Linked DNA regions of Homo sapiens. The protein of the gene in region 1 interacts with the protein of each later gene in a biochemical or structural test. Each region holds a gene or a part of one and is shown in the gene's direction. Other genes may lie near its edges.

Region 1 (4,852 bases):
TTTTAAACAAAGGTATGAGGGTGCTGGTTGATGCTCGAGAGAAGCTTCATATTCCCTGGGGAGACAACTCAAACCAACAACATGGAGATAAGATGATGTCGTTTGATACCCGGGCCCCCATGGCAGCCCAAGGAATGGTGGAAACAAGGGTTTTCTTACAATATCTTCCTGCTATAAGAGCATTATGGGCAGACAGCGGCATACAGAATGCCTATGACCGGCGTCGAGAATTTCAACTGGTAAGAGATTTGCTCTTTTAAAACGTGTGGTTTTATTTTAATGATGTTTAGTAATACAGGTTGCACATCCCTAATGCGAAAATTCGAAATGTTCCCAAATCTAAAAGTATTTGAGATGGAGGAACAGACTGAAAGGCTAAGGCACAGACCTAATGTGTCCTAGTCTCTAATGACTACGTGTAAAAATAGTGTATAAAATTACCTTTAGGCTACATATCTTAAGGTATATATGAAACATAAATGAATTTCTAGTTTAGACTTGAGTCCCATTCCCAGCATATCTCATATGTATGCAGATATTTCAAAAATCTGAAAAAATTCAAAATCCAAAACACTTCTGGTCCCAGGCATTCGGATAAGGGACACTCAACCTGTATCTGATTTTAGCACACTTTTTTCACTGACTTCCATAATTTAATGTATCTATCCAAAATTATAGCCTCAGAAATTTGTTTTTTTGTTTTTGGGGGGTTTGTTTTGAGACGGAGTCTCTGTTGCCCAGGCTGGAGTGCAGTGGTGTGATCTTGGCCCACTGCAACCTCTGCCCCCAGGGTTCAAGCAACTCTCCTGCCTCAGCCTCCTGTGTAGCTGGGTCTATAGGCGCGTGCCACCACACCTAGCTAATTTTTGTCTTTTTAGTAGAGGCAGTTTCGCCATGTTGGCCAGGCTGATCTTGAACTCCTGACCTCAGGTAATGTGCCCACTTTGACCTCCCAAATTGCTGGCATTGTGCCAGGCATTTTTCCCCTTTTTTCTTTAACGAGACTACCCATAAAATGCTTTGTAGCTGTTACACAGCATTGAAGACAGGTTTGGAATAAAAGTATCCAATCCAGGTTAAAGATACAGAATACAGTTGAAACAAATTTTTAATCAAGTGTTTTGTAATTTAACTGTGAATGCTGTGATTGGGTTTTATTTGCCAAAGATCAGAAAGATTCCAGCAGTGATAGAAATCTAGACTGTGTGCAATTTGGAGGTAGTTCAGATCTGAAGTGTTTTACTCTAATATGATTAAAATGAAGTGACAGTTAAAAGTAAAACTGCTGGCTGGGCACGGTGGCTCATGCCTGTAATCCCAGCACTTTGGGAGTCTGAGGCGGGTGGATCACCTGATGTCAGAAGTTTGAAACCAGCCTGGCCAACACGGTGAAACACCGTCTCTTCTAAAAATACAAAAATTAGCCAGGTGTGGTGGCAGGCACCTGTAATCCCAGCTACTCAGGAGGCTGAGGCAGGAGACTCGCTTGAACTCTGGAAGCGGAGGCTGCGGTAAGCCGAGTTCGTGCCACTGCACTCCAGCCTGGGCAACAAGAGCAGAACTCCATCTCCAAAAAAAAAATAAATAAGCTGCTTAGGAAGTTGTTTGATGATGTCACCAACATTAATCCACATTAATGGGTGTGGCTGCAAAGCGATGTACAACCAGCAGTCCTTGCTGTTATTATTTATACTTAGAAGCAGTCTTGCCTTTTAAAAGTTCCAGGAAAGTGTTCACGATAGCTTTTTATAAAACTGACACCTTAATTTTGACTATATCTGAATTATGGCTTTTATATCTGTCATTCAACTAGCATTTGATTATTTACCGTCTTGTATAGTTCTCTTCTATCATGTTTGTATCTTGTCTTTTCAAGTAATGTGTTTATTTCTGAAAGGCAGGGACTGTCTCACATTATTGTTAAAATTACGTAGCTGCCAGTATTGCATGTTGAAAATGATGAATTTAACTTGACAAATGACCTCCATCCAATTCCCAGATTTCTGGTTAGTTTTGTCCCTTGATCAATGTTTATTACTTTATTTTTGGTAGATTTGCTTGCATGAGTTCTTCCATATACCCCTTTCCATCGCCCATCACTCTACCTCCTGTTTTTTGTTTTTTTGCATTTTTTTGAGAGTTTTGTTCTTGTTGCCCAGGCTGGAGTGCAGTGGCGCGATCTTGGCTCACCTCCGCCTCCTGGGTTCAGGCGATTCTCCTGCCTCAGCCTCCCAAGTAGCTGAGATTACAGGCATGCGCCACCACACCTGGCTAATTTTGTATTTTTAGTAGAGACAGTGTTTCTCCATGTTGGTCAAGCTGGTCTCTAACTCCTGACCTCAGGTGATCTGCCTGCCTTGCCCTCCCAAAGTGCTGGGATTACAGGCATGAGCCACTGTGCCTGGCCATCTACCTCCTGTTTTTAAGTGCTGCTTATTCTCCTTTCTTCTTAGTTCATTTTCTCAACAAACCACACACTTTCAACTCAATTTTGTCAGGCTCTATTCATCCTTCCAGGTCAGAGAAGAAACATTCATCTGTAATAAGCATACAGTGCATATGGATTAAATGAATAAATAAAGAACTGCATACCTGAAAGTTCTCTGTGGGGAAGTTCCGTATTTGCCCTAAGTCCATTTAATTAAAGTTGTGTTTCATGGACAGTTTTTTAATTTGGAAGCTGACGTCTAACTGTCTCACATCAGGACTGTCATGTCCTCATTGTTGAGAAAGCATCCCTAAGTATATCTTTGTGATTAAGAACGAATAGGTAAAACCACTCAGGATGAGGACCTGCTTGTTGTTGACTTGAGCCAGTTGATCCTTAAGGAGCAAAGAAGTCCTCAAAGATGAGGAGAGATAAGTTCCAGAAATACTTTTTTCCATGATGAAAAGTAGAGACAAGAAAAGAGGAACAGAGCAAGACCTAATTTTAAACTTCTGGAGGACAGAGATTCTTTTTTCCTGAGTCTACGCTCAGCATTGTTTTTTGTTTTTTTGTTTTTGTTTTTTAAGAGAAGGTCTCACTGTTGCCCAGGCTGGAGTGCCCTGTTGTGATCATAGCTCACTGTAGACTCAACTCCTGGGCTCAAGTGATTCTCCAGCTTCAGTCTCTCAAGTAGCTAGGACTACAGGTGTGTGCCGTCACACCCAGCTAATTTAAAAAAAAATTTTTGTAGAGACGGAGTCTTGCTATGTTGCCAGTGCTGGTCTTGGACTCCTGACCTCAAGCAGTCCTCCTGCCTTGGCTTCCCAAAATGTTGGGATTATAGGCATGAACCACTGTGCGTGGCTTCAGCATTGTTAATAGCACCTGACACATAGAGATGCTCCATTATTATGTTGACTTAATGACTCTTAAACTCTTGGATGTGCTGTGGTGCTTGGCATAGTGTCAGGCACTGAGAAGGCACTTGGCTTACTTAAAATTTTCCTCAAAGTCATCATCAATTCCATCTACTCATCTACATGCAGCAGCTCCCCAAGTTCTGATTTTTCTACCTCTGTAACGTCTCTTGCATTCATTCCCTCCTTTCCTCTATTTTGTGTTCTGCTACCTCTTGCTTGGACTCCAAGGCAGTCTTGTTCAAACACAGCATTGGTTTGCTCAGAAAGCTTTGGTGGCTCACCATTGTCTTCAGAACAGAGCTCAGCTTTTTTGTGGGAGTAAAGACTCTAGCTAGCTTACCTGTGATTCCAGCAATATATTTCATTAGGCCACTGGACATACTCTGTAATCTCTTGATTCCCACATACCCTAATTTTTTGCTTCTATAGCTCTCATCATGCGTAGTCCCTCTGCCAGAATTATTCTTTACCCTATCTGTTACTAGGTCTTACCCTTCACTTAATGTAGTGATAATCACACTAAATGTGGCCCATGGACCCCATGGACTGGAATGCTTGTTAAAACAAACAAGCAGATGCTCAGACTTTATACCTGAGGATCTGATTCTGGATTCTGGGATGGGACCCAGTGATCTGTGTTTTCAGCAAATAGCCATAGGTGGTTTGGATGAATTTGCTCCATGCCCCCTCCCTTTCCCCAGGAACAGTGCCTTAGGGGCTGTGTCTCTTTATTTGAAGCATCTCCAGTCTTCTTGGCTAGAATGGAGATCTCCGTGTCCTTTGCTTTCCCTAGCATGCTTACTCCTGTCACTCCTCACAGTACCCATTATGTGTGTTAGAGTCACAGCTTTCATGTGTGGCTGTCAGTCATGTAGAAGTCCTTTGGTATGCCTAGTTTGTCTTTTTCTCTCCTACTAGCATAGTGCCTGACACTTTTATTTCCTCGTTTTTCAGACATTCTTAATTACAAAGATGTTCTAAAAAAATAAAATACCTGTAATCCCAGCTCTTTGGGAGGCTGAGGCAGGCAGATCACTTGAGGTCAGGAGTTGGAAACCAGCCTGGCTGACATGGTGAAACCCCATCTCTACCAAAAACCAAAACCAAAACCAAAAATTAGCCAGGCATGGTGACATGTACCTGTAGTCCTGGCTACTCAGGAGACTGAGGCACGAGAATCGCTTGAACTCAGGAGGTGGAGGTTGCAGTGAGTGGAGATCATGCCACTGCACTCCAGCTTGAACGTCAGAGTGAGACCCTGTCTCAAAAAAATAAAAATTAAAAAATATGTAATATAATTTAATTCTACATTAAGTTCCTTCTGGGAAATATGGATTATTTCTATAATAGTTTCCTAATTTTCTAGGAAGTGGACAGTTCTTGTGTAATTATAATTTTTATTTGGGGGGGTTGAAATGTGTTTTGTTATGTTTAGCAGCATATTTTTGAATTTTGGATAGGAAAGGTAAACATCAGAAGAAATAGAGGTTAGCAGATAAAATAA
Region 2 (4,852 bases), on another chromosome or scaffold:
ATCTGTCCGTCCCGTGCTGAAGTACAGAGCAGCCATGTGGTGTCTGCCAGGCACTGGGTAGCTTTAGCCCCCGCAATTCCAGGCCCCCAGAGTGTGGGTCTCGTGGCCGCAGAGGCCTTCCAGCCAGCCCTGCTCCCTCCACCCCACAGGTGCTGACGCCCCCCTGGAGCTGGGGGACTCATCCCCGCAGGGCCCAATGAGCCTGGAGTCCTTGGCGCCCCCAGAGAGTACCGACGAGGGGGCCGAAACCGAGAGGTGCCCAGGCTGGGGTGCAGGGGCGGGAGGTGTGGCTTACTGGGCGCTGGTGGGTGGGTGCAGGGTCACCGCTGCCATCTGTGCCTGCCTGTCCCAGGCTCTTGCTCCCCATGCTCCTCTGCTGCTCTCTGGGTCTGGCCATTCCTCTCCCTTCTTCTTTCCTTTTCTCATCTCCCTCCTGCTTCCTCATTGCCCCCCTTTCCTTTTATCCTTCCTTTTTCCTCTGCTCCTTCCTCTCCTTCCTTTTTTCACTAATCCTTCTCCTCCTCCCTTCCTCTCCACCACTCCTTCCATCTCCTTTATTTCCCCCTCCTCTCTCACCTCCCCTCTCCTCTCTCACCTCCCCCATCCTCTCTCACCTCCCCCCTCCTCTCTCACCTACCCCCTCCTCTCACCTCCCCGCTCCTCTCTCACCTCCCCTCTCTTCTCTCACCTCCCTCTTCCTCTCTCACCTCCCCCCTCCTCTCTCACCTTCCCCCTCCTCTCTTTCCTCCCCACTCCTCTCTCACCTGGGTTTTCTTTCCCCACCTTCCATCCCCCTCCGATCTCCCTGCCACTTTTCATTTTTTCAGCCCTTCCTCCCCTTCTCTTTCAAGCCCCCCTGCCCCCTGCCCCCCACCCCCCGCCTCGCTCCTGCCTCCTGGTGCCCGTCCCTCAACCCCCCACCCCTCTGCTCTGTGCCCTGGGGGCCCTGTCCCCCTTACAGCTGGGGGGCAGGCTCTGCCTCCTGCCCGTCCTTGTGCCGCTGCTTTGGGGACCCTTTGGTGGGTGCGGGGAGGTGGGTCAGGTTCCATCTGGGCCCACCTCTGACCCTGTGCCCCTCTCTCCCCAGAAGGTGGAAGAGGTGGGTGCCTGGGCCCTGGGTGGGGGAAGGGCTAGCCCCTCCCCCATTTCTCCCAGCCCCTCCCCTCTCCCCATGGCCACTCCCTCCCCTTCACTCCCTGTGAGGGGTGGGTGGGGACATCACCCTCCCAGTTGAAGAGCTAAGTATGGAAATCCTCCCCACCCCATAACACCCCCTCTGTTGCCATCCCCCTGCCTCAGGGAAGGGAGGGGGTCAGTCCTATGCTCCATCCTGGGTTCCCCATCCCTTCCCCCATCAAATTTCAGTATCCCCCCTCCCCCAAGACCCCCCACTACCCCAGTGCCCCTAAAATCCCACCACTCCTCTGACTCTCTCCTCTCTTCTGTTGCATGTTTGATCCCTGTCCTGGTCACCCTTGCCCCGGTCCTGGTCTCTCCCTGTCTCTGTCCCTGTCCTGGTCTCTCCCCGTCTCTGTCCCTGTCCTCGTCTCTCCCCAATTTCTGTCCCTGCCCTGGCCTCTCCCCACCTCTGTCCCTGCCCTGGTCTCTCCCCGTCTCTGTCCCTGTCCTGGTTTCTCTTCGTCTCTGTTCTTGTCTTGGTCTCTCCTTGTCTCTGTCCCCGGCATCTGCCTGACTCTGTCCTTGGCCTCGGGGTCCAGGCTATCAGGGCGTCTGGGGCGCTCAGAGAGCCTGCGGGTGAGTGACCGCCGCCGGCCTTCCCGGGGCAGCCTCGGGGCTAAGGGCCGGGGTGGGGGCCGCTCCCGGAGCGACGTGGACATGGACCCCAGTTCCGCCACGGCAGTGCTTGGCCCTGCCCGACGAGCCACGTATGTCAACCCTCTCCCTTCCCCCATCCACTAAGGCAGCCTGGAGAATCAGGGAGGGATTGTTGTCAGAGTCACAGAGGAATGGGCGTTGGAGACCGAGGTCATTGAGGCCAACTGTGGTCACAGACCTTGGAGGAGGAGGGGGTAGAATGCTTCTAGAGATCTGGGAACTCTAGTGTGGTCCGATCTAGAGACCTGGTCTGCTGCACGGGCCACCCTGCGGGCATCGAATGCCAAGGCCACTGACCGGGGTTGAACGCTCTAAGAGGCTGAAGGCTGCTTCTTGGGATGGCCCAAGCTGGGGCCCTAACAAGGCCTCTGTCCACAGCCCCGAGCCTGGAGATGAGGGGGAGCCGGGGCGGTCGGGACTGGAGCTTGAACCAGAAGAGCCTCCCGGCTGGCGGGAACTCGTCCCCCCAGACACCCTGCACAGCCTGCCCAAGAGCCAGGTGAAGCGGCAGGAGGTCATCAGCGGTGAGTACTGCCCCCATCACCCCACTGTGGCCAAGGACACAGTCCAGCTCTGGCAAAGGCAAAGACAGGCGCAGAGAGATGTTCATCTTGGTGTCATTTACCATCGGGAGAACTTGAAGGCAGCTTCAAATTCCCTCTTGTTCCAAGTTCAGATTGTTTCAACACAGAGCATTTTGATGGAATGTGAATGCCACTGTGGAAGGGACATTTCCAAACATTTCTAGTAGTGCAATACAGTGCTGATGTTGAGAACACTGCATTTCTGGTGCAAGCTTTTATTTCCTTGCTTGTGAAATGTGGGCATTAATAGTTCCTACCTCAGATATTGTCATGAAGATGAGATGATTTGTGTGAAATGTTTAGCATAGTGCTGGGCACAGAGGAAGAGCATTTTATTTTATTTATTTTTTTAAATTTTTATTTGAGGCAGAGTCTCAGTTGGTCTCTCAGGCTGGAGTGCAGTGGCACAATCACGGCTCACTGCAGCCTTACCCTCCCAGGCTCAACTGATCCTCCCACCTCAGCCTCCCGAGTAGCTGAACAGGCATGTACCACCATGCCTGGCTAATTTTTGTATTCTTTGTAGAGATGGGGTTTCGCCATGTTGGCCAGGCTGGTCTCGAACCCTTGGGCTCAAGTGATCCTCCTACCTCAGCCTCCCAAAGTCTTGGGATTACAAGTGTGAGCCACCAGGCCCAGTCAAGGAAGAGCATTTTAATGAGATTGTTGTTACTAGTTTGATCTTAATTGCTTAGGGGAGAAAAGATCCCCACAGGGGAAAGTTTGGGAGAATGATCAGTATATTAGCAGTGCTTGCTTCTGCGTGGAGAGATGATGAGTGTATCATTTTTGTCTTTTTCCTTTTTTCCTTTGCTAATTGTGTGGTGGCTAGGGAGGCTGGTGGCAAAAAGAGAAAGCTTTTTTTTTTTTTTTTTTTTTAAGACAGAGTTTTGCTCTTGTTGCCCAGGCTGGAGTGCAATGGCACAATCTCGGCTCACCACAACCTACGCCTCCCAGGTTCAAGTGATTCTCCTGCCTCAGCCTCCTGAGTAGCTGGGATTACAGGCATGTGCCACCACGCCCGGCTAATTTTGTATTTTTAGTAGAGACGGGGTTTCTCCATGTTGGTCAGGCTGGTCTCGAACGCCCGCCTCAGCCTCCCAAAGTGCTGGGATTACAGGCGTGAGCCACTGTGCCTAGCCCAAGAGAAAGGTTTGGGACTTGACTGAAAGCTTATTTACAGATTACTTCATAGTGAAAAAGATACTTATTCAAAAATTTTAGGGGAGTAGTTGAGTACTTTTTGGGTCACAGATCCTTCTAAGGACATGATAAAAAAAAAAAAAAACATGAGCCATGTGCTACCCATTAGGACTTTCTGGAAGATGGAAATGTGCTTTATTTGTACTGCTCACCATGGGGACCATCGGCCACCTATGGCTGGTGAGCACTTGAAATGCACTAGGCCAGGCACAGTGGCTCATGCCTGTGATCCCAGCACTTTGGGAAGCCGAGGTGGGCAGATCACTTGAGGTCAGGAGTTCGAGACTAGCCTGGCCAACATGGTGAAACCCCATCTCTACTAAACATACAAAAATTAGCCAAGCATAGTGGCGCATGCCTGTAATCCCAGATACTCGAGAGAGTAAGCCAGGAGAATTGCTTGAACCCAGGAAGCAGGAGATGGAGGTTGCAATGAACCCAGATCACTCCACCACACTTCAATCTAGGTGACAGAGCAAGACTGTGTCTCAAAAAAAAAGCACTAAATACAACTGAGCACTGACTTAAAATTTCATTGCAATTAACGAAAATGTAAAGAGTTGTACACGGCTGGTGACTATCACGTTGGACAGGATAGCAATTTCTTTCCCCAGAAAGAATATGCATAATGTACAAAATCGTGCTTTTAGTCTCAGGGGACTTCTAGGGCCCCTGAAACTCACACATATGCCCTCCGGGGATGTGGGGGTCCCTGGATCTGAGGCTGTCAACCACTGTATAATGTGGCTTGATGGTTAGACACTAAACACAGCTGCAAGCTTGCTGGCAGGTGGGATGACTAGCTTGTCCCCATTTGCTCAGGATATTCACAGTTTTATCACTGAAAGCCCAGGCAGGCAAATGAGGACCATTGGTCACTCTGGCCAGCTGCCACAGCGAAAAGGGAAAGGCAGTGGGTTGAGGAATCCTCACTGGTTTTTTTTTTTTTTTTTTTTTTTTGAGACGATCTCGCTCTGTCGCCTAGGCTAGAGTGCAGTGGCGTGATCTCCGCTCACTGCAACCTCCACCTCCCAGGTTCAAGCGATTGTCCTGCCTCAGCCTCCCAAGTAGCTGGAACTACAGGTGCCCACCACCACTCCTGGCTAATTTTTGTATTTTTAGTAGAGATGGGGTTTCACCATGTTGGCCAGGATGGTCTTGATCTCTTGACCTCGTGATCTGCCCGCCTAAGCCTCCCAAATTGCTGGGATTACAGGCATGAGCCACTG
Region 3 (5,481 bases), on another chromosome or scaffold:
AGAGACCATCAAGGGAACTTTAACAACTTGACAAATGTCCTTGAAGTAAGATGCCTCATCTTTAGGGAAAAATGGGGTTTGGATTTCTGCTTAGGCAAAGTCTCCTGCAGTTCATCCTTCTCTGTCCTCTTCTTGCTTCAGGCTTGGGGACCGTCCCTGCTGTCCCCACTGTGGTGGCAATCAGGACCTAAGGTGAAGCAAACTTGAAGTTCTATCTGACAAGTTTAGGCAGTAAGAGAAGGAGGGAAATCGGAGCAAAGCTCCCTCACTTTATTGTTGAGAAACTGGCATCTGGAAAGAGGAAGGAATTTGCCCAAAGTCAGTCAGCTGGGATAAAAACCTGGGTGTCCTGTCCAGAAAGTGCAGGGTGCTTTCTGCTCTGTAGCAAGGCAGCAGACATCTCTGAGCCAGGCCCACCAACAGGCCCTTATCTGGTGGTTGGATCATGATCCCATTTTGCTTGGACATGCTCTCAGGAAGATAAAAACCATGGAGAAACACTAGGCCATTGACAAATGATCTGAGACAACTTTAGAAAACAATGTAGGATGAATGGAAAGAGAAAGAAAGGAAAGAAAGAAGAAAAAGAAAGAAGGAAAGAAAGAAAGAGAAAGGAAGGAAGGAAAGAAGGAAGGAAAAGAAGGAAGGAAGGAAGGAATATAGTGTTATAAATACTGCACTCAACATTTTCCAAATTCTTGCCATTATTTTTCAAAAGTTTAATAGTTTGCAGAAATAGATACTCAAGCCAAAGTCTGTTTTAGAGAAACTTTCCATGGAAAGTCAGAATTTCTACCACTTCCTTTTCTATCCACATTTCCAGTGCAGAAGAAACTGAGAAACAGAGCTTTTTGAAGAGAGGACAGGGCCATAGCAACAAGGACCTTCTTGGGGGATTAATGGGAGGTCAGTAGAATTAATAACCCTCCTTGGATGAGTGCTACTGTTTTCACATGGCTTCAGATGCTATCAACCTCAAAGAAATGATCTCAACAGAGAAGCTTATTCTCTCCCAACTTCTACGGTAAAATCCAGGAGTATTTTCTCTGGGGATCTGCCCACAGGACAAAGTCCATAAAAGCAAGTCCTGTCTGGACCATGTGGTTATCTGAAGCATTAGCCATCACCAGCACAACAAACGGGGCAGGGCTTTCCAAGGTGGGGCTGGTCAGAAGGGAATCTTTGATAAGAGGCCCACAGGCAGGGAAAGCGAAATAGGGTTGATGAGACCAGGGGAGACCTAAAAAAAAGGCAGCTTTGTGTCTTCTAGCTCCAAATATACCTGCCTTTTAGCTCACACACTGTCCTGGAGTTCTCAGACCTTTAGGGGCCCTAACACAGTTCAGTTCATACAGGGGTTCAAAAGGGACAGTGGCCCATTTGGGAGACCTTTAGGATCAATGGGAATCAATTCCATTGTTTTGCCTCAGAGTAAAGTTTCTGGCTCGGGGACAATTATAAGTTGCAAAAAGGATAGAGGCATATCCCAAGTCTTCCTTCATTCCACAAATAATTACAAACAACCTACTGTGTGCCAGGCACTATTCTTAGCACTGGAAATACACTAGTGAAGAAGCAGATGAGGACCCTGTTTATTGTTTCTCTCCAAGAAATTCTCCAAGAATATTGTTTCTTGGAGAGAAATAATAAATAAACAAGACAATTTCTGAAAGCAATAAGTGCAATCAAGATAATTAAAGGATGCTAAAGTGTGACTTGTGGGGATTGGGAGAGAGATGCACAGACAATATTAAAGAGGAGGCATTCGAGCTTTGTTGTGAACACCGGAAGTAACATGCCGAGCGCCTGGGGGATGGAAACTCCTATAGCACCCCACAGGCTAACAGCAAGCAGGACAAGACAAAAAGGGCAGGTGGGACATGGTAGAGATGGACCCTACCCAGGAAACAGCTCCATCAGCATCTTAGCCTGCCCCACTCTAGCCACACATACCCACGTGTGCTCCTGAGTTCAGTGTGCCCACCTCACTCCCACACCCTCACATAGACTTGGCAAGAGTAAGGAGGGAACTCCATAGAGACATTTTACCTATCTCAGGGGAGCAGCCACAAAGAAGCAAGTCTTGTAAAAGGTCTTTTGCAAAGGAGAGTGAACCCAGCAATGAGAGATCCTTAACAGCTAGTGCCCATTAGGGGGCTAAACCTAAAGCCTGGGTGGTGATGGCTCAAACGCTAATGAGTCAGTGAATCCTTACCGACCCCCTGGCCTTTATAATCTGAGGCAACTTTGGCTGCAGCCCGGGAATGTGCAGGGCACTAGGGAATACAAGGCCTTCTTCCCTGGTTGTCTTGTAATAAAACAGCCATGGGGTTGTCCCTCCAGTCCGAGAGACTGTGATGAGGCCTACATAGCAGCGATGTGGTCAGGTAAAAATCAGGAACCCACTGAAATCTTGGGCAAGCCACCCTGCCTGCTTGTGCCTCGGTTCTCTCATATGTCATATATAGGAGGTGAGGACTCCAGCTCCACCTGCCCCAGGTGGGTGTGGTGATGATGAGGAAAGACAAGAGGCTTGCAAGGACCCTGAAGAGGTCGGAGCATCATACAGATTCCTTTATTAGCCCACATTCTGATGTTCCCTGGTGAGACTTGCCCCAAGCAATTGCTAGTAAATGGGGGTTAATTTCTTCTCCACCTCCCTACTGAACAAAAAAAGAAATGCCAGACTTACTAGGAGAATCGAGTTGCTTTGAGTTTCTTTTGTTTTGTTTTGTTTTGTTTTGTTTTAAGGCTCCCCTTACACACCCTCCTTTAAGCTTTGGGTTTTCTCTCTTATAGTTTGTTGACACATGCTAAAAATGTCTTTGGAGAGAACTTCTGCCTGATAAACACCCAATTCTAGACTGTGGGTGGATTTTCGAGCTGACGGTGGTCAATTCCTTTCATTAAGCAGTGATCTGATTTCTCCACATGGCCATTCTGCCTTCTTGGGGGCAGAGTAGATGGGCAGCAGTTCACCTTTTCAGAGAAAGAGGTCTTCTAGCCACCTGGGCTGCTACTGAATGGTTTTCTCCAGGACGCTCTACCTAATGATTATTTCTATAACATTAAGCATGGTAATAAGTAGCTTCCAATTCAATTCATCCTAAAGCCAAAGAAAATACAGCAACACACACACACACACACACACACACACACACACACACACACACACACCACTTTATGGCAATTCTTAACTGACATTCAATGACTTACTTCTTTTCTTAGAAAATTTCCACCACATTTCTATCCCCAAGCCAACATACAATGTGAAATGAAAGCCAGTGCGTGGAGTGCAGCTGCTAAAAATTTTCAGCACAGGGCTCTTTCTGACTCTGCTCATGAGATGGTATCAGCCACCCAATGACTGGCGTATCTTGGTCCTGTGTCTTTCTTCTTACGCTGTGTTAATGTGTTTACTTTCCATTTGGCAGAGAGACAAGAGAGACACCTCCAACTTCGACAAAGAGTTCACCAGACAGCCTGTGGAACTGACCCCCACTGATAAACTCTTCATCATGAACTTGGACCAAAATGAATTTGCTGGCTTCTCTTATACTAACCCAGAGTTTGTCATTAATGTGTAGGTGAATGCAAACTCCATCGTTGAGCCTGGGGTGTAAGACTTCAAGCCAAGCGTATGTATCAATTCTAGTCTTCCAGGATTCACGGTGCACATGCTGGCATTCAACATGTGGAAAGCTTGTCTTAGAGGGCTTTTCTTTGTATGTGTAGCTTGCTAGTTTGTTTTCTACATTTGAAAATGTTTAGTTTAGAATAAGCGCATTATCCAATTATAGAGGTACAATTTTCCAAACTTCCAGAAACTCATCAAATGAACAGACAATGTCAAAACTACTGTGTCTGATACCAAAATGCTTCAGTATTTGTAATTTTTCAAGTCAGAAGCTGATGTTCCTGGTAAAAGTTTTTACAGTTATTCTATAATATCTTCTTTGAATGCTAAGCATGAGCGATATTTTTAAAAATTGTGAGTAAGCTTTGCAGTTACTGTGAACTATTGTCTCTTGGAGGAAGTTTTTTGTTTAAGAATTGATATGATTAAACTGAATTAATATATGCAAGCTCTTGTTTATATGTCTTTTCTTAAATAGACTATGTTACAGAGGTTACAGACTGAAGATCCAGTTTGTAGCCATTAGATAAGCTTAATTTTACTCACATGGAATTTTACTTAATCAAAACCATTGTGAACATGACAAAATAAGATACTTTATATAAATTCCTGGACTTTTAGATTCCCTTGAAAAAAGAAACAAAAGACTAGCAGCTCTGAGCCTGTATTTCCACATGGAAATAATTCTACAGAACTGAGAAATGCTTCTCCTTTAAAAGCAGTGTATGTTCTCATTTTGCCACAGTCTCCACCACCCCCTATTGTCTTATACCCTCCATCCACTTCCCTGGCTGCTATAGCCACTTGAGGTTGAAACCTCTGTCATTCGTGAGTCACAGGTTTGAGGACCTTAATATTTTCTTGTGCCCCTAATCAGGGTATGTGTGCAGCCACCCACTCAATGTGATTCGTGTTTATTAAGCTATGTATCAAGCACAAGATATGTAAGATTTTATTCCAGCCATGACAAAAGTCAGGAAAGAGGCTGGTGTCAGTGCAGAGAGAATCCTTTGTTTGTTGTCCATGAGGATGTTGCTATTTGTAAAACGACTTACCTTTGACTTATATTCTCCTAATTTAGCTAAGCACCTGCCAAAAAAAGAGGGGGGGGAGTATAAGCCATTTTTTTTTTCAACCGCTTGTCCAGGGAGGCCCAAGAGAAGAGGGAGAAATAAGGGAGACTGCTTCTAAACCCTGCTGGCATGATAAGGACCCGCACTCTCTCAGAGCAGAGTGGCACAGTACTGAGTCACTGGGTGTCAATCTAATACCTTCTTCTCTGAATGAAGTCATGCTTCTATTTTCTTTTCAAAAGATATAGTAATCCAATCTGTAGCACATGCCTTTGTAGCTGCTAAGGCTAGTGGGTAGCAGAAAAGAGCAAATGTGTTCACACTATGTACATTATGACTCTCTACAGAGTGTATTCATCTCTTCCCTTCTTGAAAGAGCCTCAGTAAATGGAGCATTGGAAAGATACAGTGAATCCATTGATCTTACCTAGTGCACTAATCTTTGCAGAATTTTAGAAAGTCTGCCAGTTAAAGTTGGCTGAAGCCCATTTAAACTTCAGGAAGAAACAGTGTTCTAGGCATCACATTTAGAAAACAAAAATACCTGGGATTCTACAGATGTTTGAACATGCATCCCATTTAAGACAGTATTATATAGAAGAGGTTACCATTGCTGCCTCTTATTCCTCCTCATTCCATGCCAGCTTCTCAAACTTTCCCCCTCTGCCAGATATAAACCCATCTTTCATTTAATAAATATTGAGCCCCGACTCTGAGCCAAGCACAGTTCTGGATACTGGTGTTATAGAGACCAATAAGATAGTTCAGGAC
Region 4 (4,547 bases), on another chromosome or scaffold:
GCAGAGGACATGGATTGGGTGGGCTGGTGCTGGGTGCTCAGGAAGGCCTCTCCAGGGAGGCGAGGTTTGAGCTGACACTGCGGGAAGCAGAGGCATCTGCCGTGCACAGAGCCTGGCGAGCATATTCCAGGCTTGAGGAGGGGTCCTAAGGCAGGGAGAAGTTGGCGAGTGGGCAGGGCTGTGCTTTGAGGGCTGACATTGGACATGGGGTTCACTGGGCCCAAATCCTATGGCGCTTTACAGGCCCCAGTGAGGAACTTTGTTCCTAGGGCAGTGCGGAGCCACCAAAGGCTTTGAGTGGGAGAGGGGCCTGATCTGAATAGTGACATTGAAAGCTCTATCTGGCTTCGGGGCCACAGGGGATTGAATGGGGTCTGGAGGGCAGATCAGCAGAGAGGGTGGGGGTGGCTCAGAATCACAGTCACCTGTCCTGAATGTCCATGTCCATGCTGGATGTCCCCTGCCCAACACCCACCCAGGCTGGGCTGTGGGGTCAGCACCTGGCCGGGCCAGGAGGTGGCCTGTGAGTGACCACCCCCGGGGAGGTGGACGAGTCCCTAATGTTTCCCTCGCTCCCCACCAGGGCCCATGTGTGACCTGCTCTGGTCAGATCCACAGCCACAGGTGAGTCTAGGGTGGGGTGCAGGGCCGGCGGGTGTGGGCTGTGGCAGCAGGTGGAGGCAGACAGTCACCCTGAACCCCTGTCTCTCCCTTCTGCCCACCCTCAGAACGGGCGCTCGATCAGCAAGCGGGGCGTGAGCTGTCAGTTTGGGCCTGACGTCACCAAGGCCTTCTTGGAAGAGAACAACCTGGACTATATCATCCGCAGCCACGAAGTCAAGGCCGAGGGCTACGAGGTGGCTCACGGAGGCCGCTGTGTCACCGTCTTCTCTGCCCCCAACTACTGGTATGTCTTTGCCTTTCCAGCCCAGGGCCTCTACCAAGCCACGGGTTTTTGTCTTGGTTTTTGTTTTGCCTTTTTATGATGGAACATTTCAAAGACAGGCAAGAGCAGATAAAAGAACATGACGAACACCCCCGTATGTGTCACCCACCCATGCAGCACCAGTGGGGCCAGCCTGTGAGTGCTGACCAGCTGCCCTGTGTTACAGCAAGCCCCTGGCACTTCACCTTTCTCCCACTGATTGCCCAGCACTTTTCAGAAGGAAAGGGATCTTTTTCTTAACCACAATATCGTGTTTACACTTTTGAGTGCTGGCTGGGCATGGTGGCTCACGCCTATAATCCCAGCACTTTGGGAGGCCGAGGTGGGCGGATCACCTGAGGTCAGGAGTTTGAGACCAGCCTGGCCAACATGGTGAAACCCCATCTCTACTAAAAATACAAAAATTAGCAGGGCGTGGTGGCACACACCCGTAATCCCAGCTACTCAGGAGGCTGAGTCAGGAGAATTGTTCGAACCCGGGAGGTAGAGGTTGCAGTGAGCTGAGATTGCACCACTGCACTCCAGCCTGGGGAAGAGTAAGACTCCATCTCAAAACACACGCACACGGGCAAGAGTAAGACTCCATCTCAAAACACACACACACACACACACACACACACACACACACACACACACACACACACACACACACACACACACACACACACACACACACACACACACACACACAGTGTTGATCCCTTGCCCCCACCCGAATCCTGCCAAGTTCTCTTTCTCCTGGTCTCTCCTAAGTGTCTTTTCCAGCTGACTTCTTCCAGACAGGACCTAAACAAGGACCACATTTTCAGTCTCTTTGCCTGTGAGTTCCCTGTCTCTCCCCACCCGCATCATTTATTTGTTGAAGAATAGGTTGCTGCCTGCTGTACGAGTCACCTGTGTCCTGGACTAGGCTGACTGCATCCCCGTGGTGCCGTGTGACATGTTCCTCTGTTCCCTGCATCTCTGGGTGGGCAAAGCTAGAAGCGTGGTCAGATTCCTAGTGGGGTCTGGCGAGCATCCACCTCCATGAGCTATGCCCTGCCCCTTCCTGCTCCTGCTTCCTGCACTCCCACCCTCTTTTCCCCATCCCCATCCTCCTGCCCCTCCCATTCTTTCCCCTGGATTCGTCTTTCCCATCTCTGTCTCTCTGTCCATCTGTGTCTGTTGTGGCTCTGTCCCTCCCTCTCCCTCTGTCCCTTCTTGCCCAGCCATTCCTTCTCTTAACCCACCAGCCCCACCCAGCCCTGACCACACTGTCCACTCTGCTCCTGTCCCTGCAGCGACCAGATGGGGAACAAAGCCTCCTACATCCACCTCCAGGGCTCTGACCTACGGCCTCAGTTCCACCAGTTCACAGCAGTGGTGAGTCACCCCTCAGGGCCCCTGCCCCTTCCATCCCGGCCTGGGGACAAGGAGGCTGAGACCCTGGTAAGGGGCAGGGGTAGGTTCTGCCGGTGGGTGCTCAGGGGCTCTGTTCTGACTTCTGTCCATCCCACCTGCCCTGGTCCCACAGCCTCATCCCAACGTCAAGCCCATGGCCTATGCCAACACGCTGCTGCAGCTAGGAATGATGTGAGGTGACGGGCGGGGCGGCCTGCATCCCAGGGCCCCTCCAATCCCACCGGACCCAGGCCCTGGGCTAGGGGCAGAGCAGGCCCCGCCCCAGGGCAATGTTGGACCCCCTTTTACTTTGTAAAGTTTGTATTTATTCCCCTTTAGGTTTGCAGAGGGGGTAGGGGCAGAGTCAGGGGCTGGCCAGAGGGTCTGCTCCCTGGACAGAGAGGAAGGAGGTGGAGCAGCTGGGGCTGGGGGCACAGCCTGGGCATTCTGTGGGGAGGCCGTCCTCGGGGTGGGGTGGGGCCGAGTGGCTGCCCTGCCCCCCTCATTTGCATGGCTCCTCCCCCACTCAAGCAATAGGGCCCCGCCATAGGAAGACCCCCAGAGAGAGGGTCAGCAGGGGGGCCCCGCCTGCGCCTCCCCTCCTATAGCCCCATGGTGGGGCTAGGCTGGGGCTCACCCCCCTCCCCAGCTATTTTATGTCTGTAATTAAATATGTTAAAATAAAGTCATTATCGGAAGTCAGCTTGTCTCTGGATGGTGGAGCCGAAGGAGCTGCCCGGGTTGGGTTACGCCTGCTCAGGAGATCCGGAGGGTGGGGAGGCCGCAAAGTCCCGCTGGCCGGGCCCACCCAGCTCTGGGCTGACCGCCCAAGTGGCCTCTGCCTCTGCCCAGCACCGTGGGCTCCTGGGGAGAGTTCTGCCCCCTGGGTGGGGCGATGAGGCCAGCACTGAGTGGAGCGGAGCGGAAGCTGAGGCATAGCCTCATCCTTTGCTGGCTCCAGCAACAAGCATGACAGTGCCGCTCCCTGCTCCCTGCTCAGGGTAGGCCCAGCAGTGGTTCTTGACATCACACGATGAGGCGCGCATCTCCCGTCATCCAGGGAGACCAGAGGACCCTTGTCTCACTCCCAGTTGGCTCTTAGTCACAGGTAACGTTGGATTCCATTCAGGCTGCCCTGCCAGGCCTTGACCCTCCAGAGAGATTGTGTTTTCAAGTTTGAGCTCCTCTGGACTCAGCTTTCTCCAGTGGTATGTGGCACTGGGGGATGGTCTACAGCAAATGACTCCTGCAGGGCCGAGTCCGGGAGTGTTTGGCCCTTTGGAGACCTCCCAGGCAGACATGAGGCGTCCGCGGTCCTGATTGCGCGTAGGCGCTGGGGAGGTGTTCTCTAAGGCCCATCAGCCTTACAGTAAGTGCACCGCCTTCTGGGGTCAGGTGCGCCACGGTCCAGAAGCCAAGTACACATGGCTTCAGGAAAACAGGCACGAGGCCCAGGTTGCCAGTGCCATTCATTTCTCCTGGGAAAGACAAAAACAGCCACCATGACTGTCGGGAGGGTGCTTCAGACCTGATGGGAGTCAGCCAGGCGGGCAGCTGTGAGGCTCTCAGACTCACTGGGTGTCGGGGTTCCCTGCCGCTGCAGTTCAGGAGGTCTCCCAGGACCCGGTATGGTCATTATCCTCACAGTGAGGGCCTATTATAGCAAGAATATGGGGATGAGAATGAGAGGAGGGAAGAGGCAGGCGCAAGCGTCCCACTGCCCTCTCCCGTGGAGCTGTGTGGACAGCGCTTATTTTCCCCGCATGGATGCGACAGCGTGCTGGAGTGTGGCCACCTAGGGAAGCTCACCCGGGCCTCTGCATCCAAGGTTTTCTTCAGGGGTTGGTCATGGGGACTGCTCACCCCGCGTGGCTGACCGTAGCCTCCAGAGAGACCCACGGCCCCCACCCTAAATCACATCCTTAGCATAGACTGTCCACTGTGGCCCAGGGCCCCAGATAAAGAGACGCTCCTATGAGGTAGGACACACCGAGGGCTCTCCGGTGACCTCCCAGGAGCCAGCCTTTTCTTCCGTCAGGGCTGCAGCCATGCTGCACAGCTGCATAACAAACACCCTAACCCCCCCCACCCCCTCAGCTTCAACAACGAATGCCTTGCTGTCTTCCTCAGTTCTGTGATTGGCTGGGCTTGGCCGTGCAGGGCGCACCTGAGGGCTGAGGCATTTGTGGTCGGGGGCATTTGGGGCTGGAGGCATCTGAAG

The links. The genes of interacting proteins can lie anywhere in the genome.
Region 2: the proteins of GNA13 (region 1) and ARHGEF1 form a complex in vitro, tested with the Homo sapiens proteins (one study listed by BioGRID).
Region 3: of the proteins of GNA13 (region 1) and PRKCB, one has a biochemical effect on the other in vitro, tested with the Homo sapiens proteins (one study listed by BioGRID).
Region 4: the proteins of GNA13 (region 1) and PPP5C form a complex in vitro, tested with the Homo sapiens proteins (one study listed by BioGRID).

Annotation. Positions count from the first base shown.
Region 1 is NC_000017.11:65,048,889-65,053,740, reverse strand, and holds part of GNA13 (guanine nucleotide-binding protein subunit alpha-13), read left to right. Parts: intron 1-12; coding exon 13-239; intron 240-4,852. UniProt on the Homo sapiens protein: Guanine nucleotide-binding proteins (G proteins) are involved as modulators or transducers in various transmembrane signaling systems.
Region 2 is NC_000019.10:41,896,228-41,901,079, forward strand, and holds part of ARHGEF1 (rho guanine nucleotide exchange factor 1), read left to right. Parts: intron 1-149; coding exon 150-255; intron 256-1,087; coding exon of another isoform or gene 1,088-1,099; intron 1,100-1,718; coding exon of another isoform or gene 1,719-1,886; intron 1,887-2,214; coding exon 2,215-2,360; intron 2,361-4,852. UniProt on the Homo sapiens protein: Seems to play a role in the regulation of RhoA GTPase by guanine nucleotide-binding alpha-12 (GNA12) and alpha-13 (GNA13) subunits. Acts as a GTPase-activating protein (GAP) for GNA12 and GNA13, and as guanine nucleotide exchange factor (GEF) for RhoA GTPase.
Region 3 is NC_000016.10:24,216,527-24,222,007, forward strand, and holds the end of PRKCB (protein kinase C beta type), read left to right. Parts: 3' UTR 1-3,434; coding exon of another isoform or gene 3,435-3,587; 3' UTR 3,588-4,085; downstream 4,086-5,481. UniProt on the Homo sapiens protein: Calcium-activated, phospholipid- and diacylglycerol (DAG)-dependent serine/threonine-protein kinase involved in various cellular processes such as regulation of the B-cell receptor (BCR) signalosome, oxidative stress-induced apoptosis, androgen receptor-dependent transcription regulation, insulin signaling and endothelial cells proliferation.
Region 4 is NC_000019.10:46,387,825-46,392,371, forward strand, and holds the end of PPP5C (serine/threonine-protein phosphatase 5), read left to right. Parts: intron 1-583; coding exon 584-624; intron 625-728; coding exon 729-907; intron 908-2,226; coding exon 2,227-2,308; intron 2,309-2,459; coding exon 2,460-2,522; 3' UTR 2,523-3,151; downstream 3,152-4,547. UniProt on the Homo sapiens protein: Serine/threonine-protein phosphatase that dephosphorylates a myriad of proteins involved in different signaling pathways including the kinases CSNK1E, ASK1/MAP3K5, PRKDC and RAF1, the nuclear receptors NR3C1, PPARG, ESR1 and ESR2, SMAD proteins and TAU/MAPT.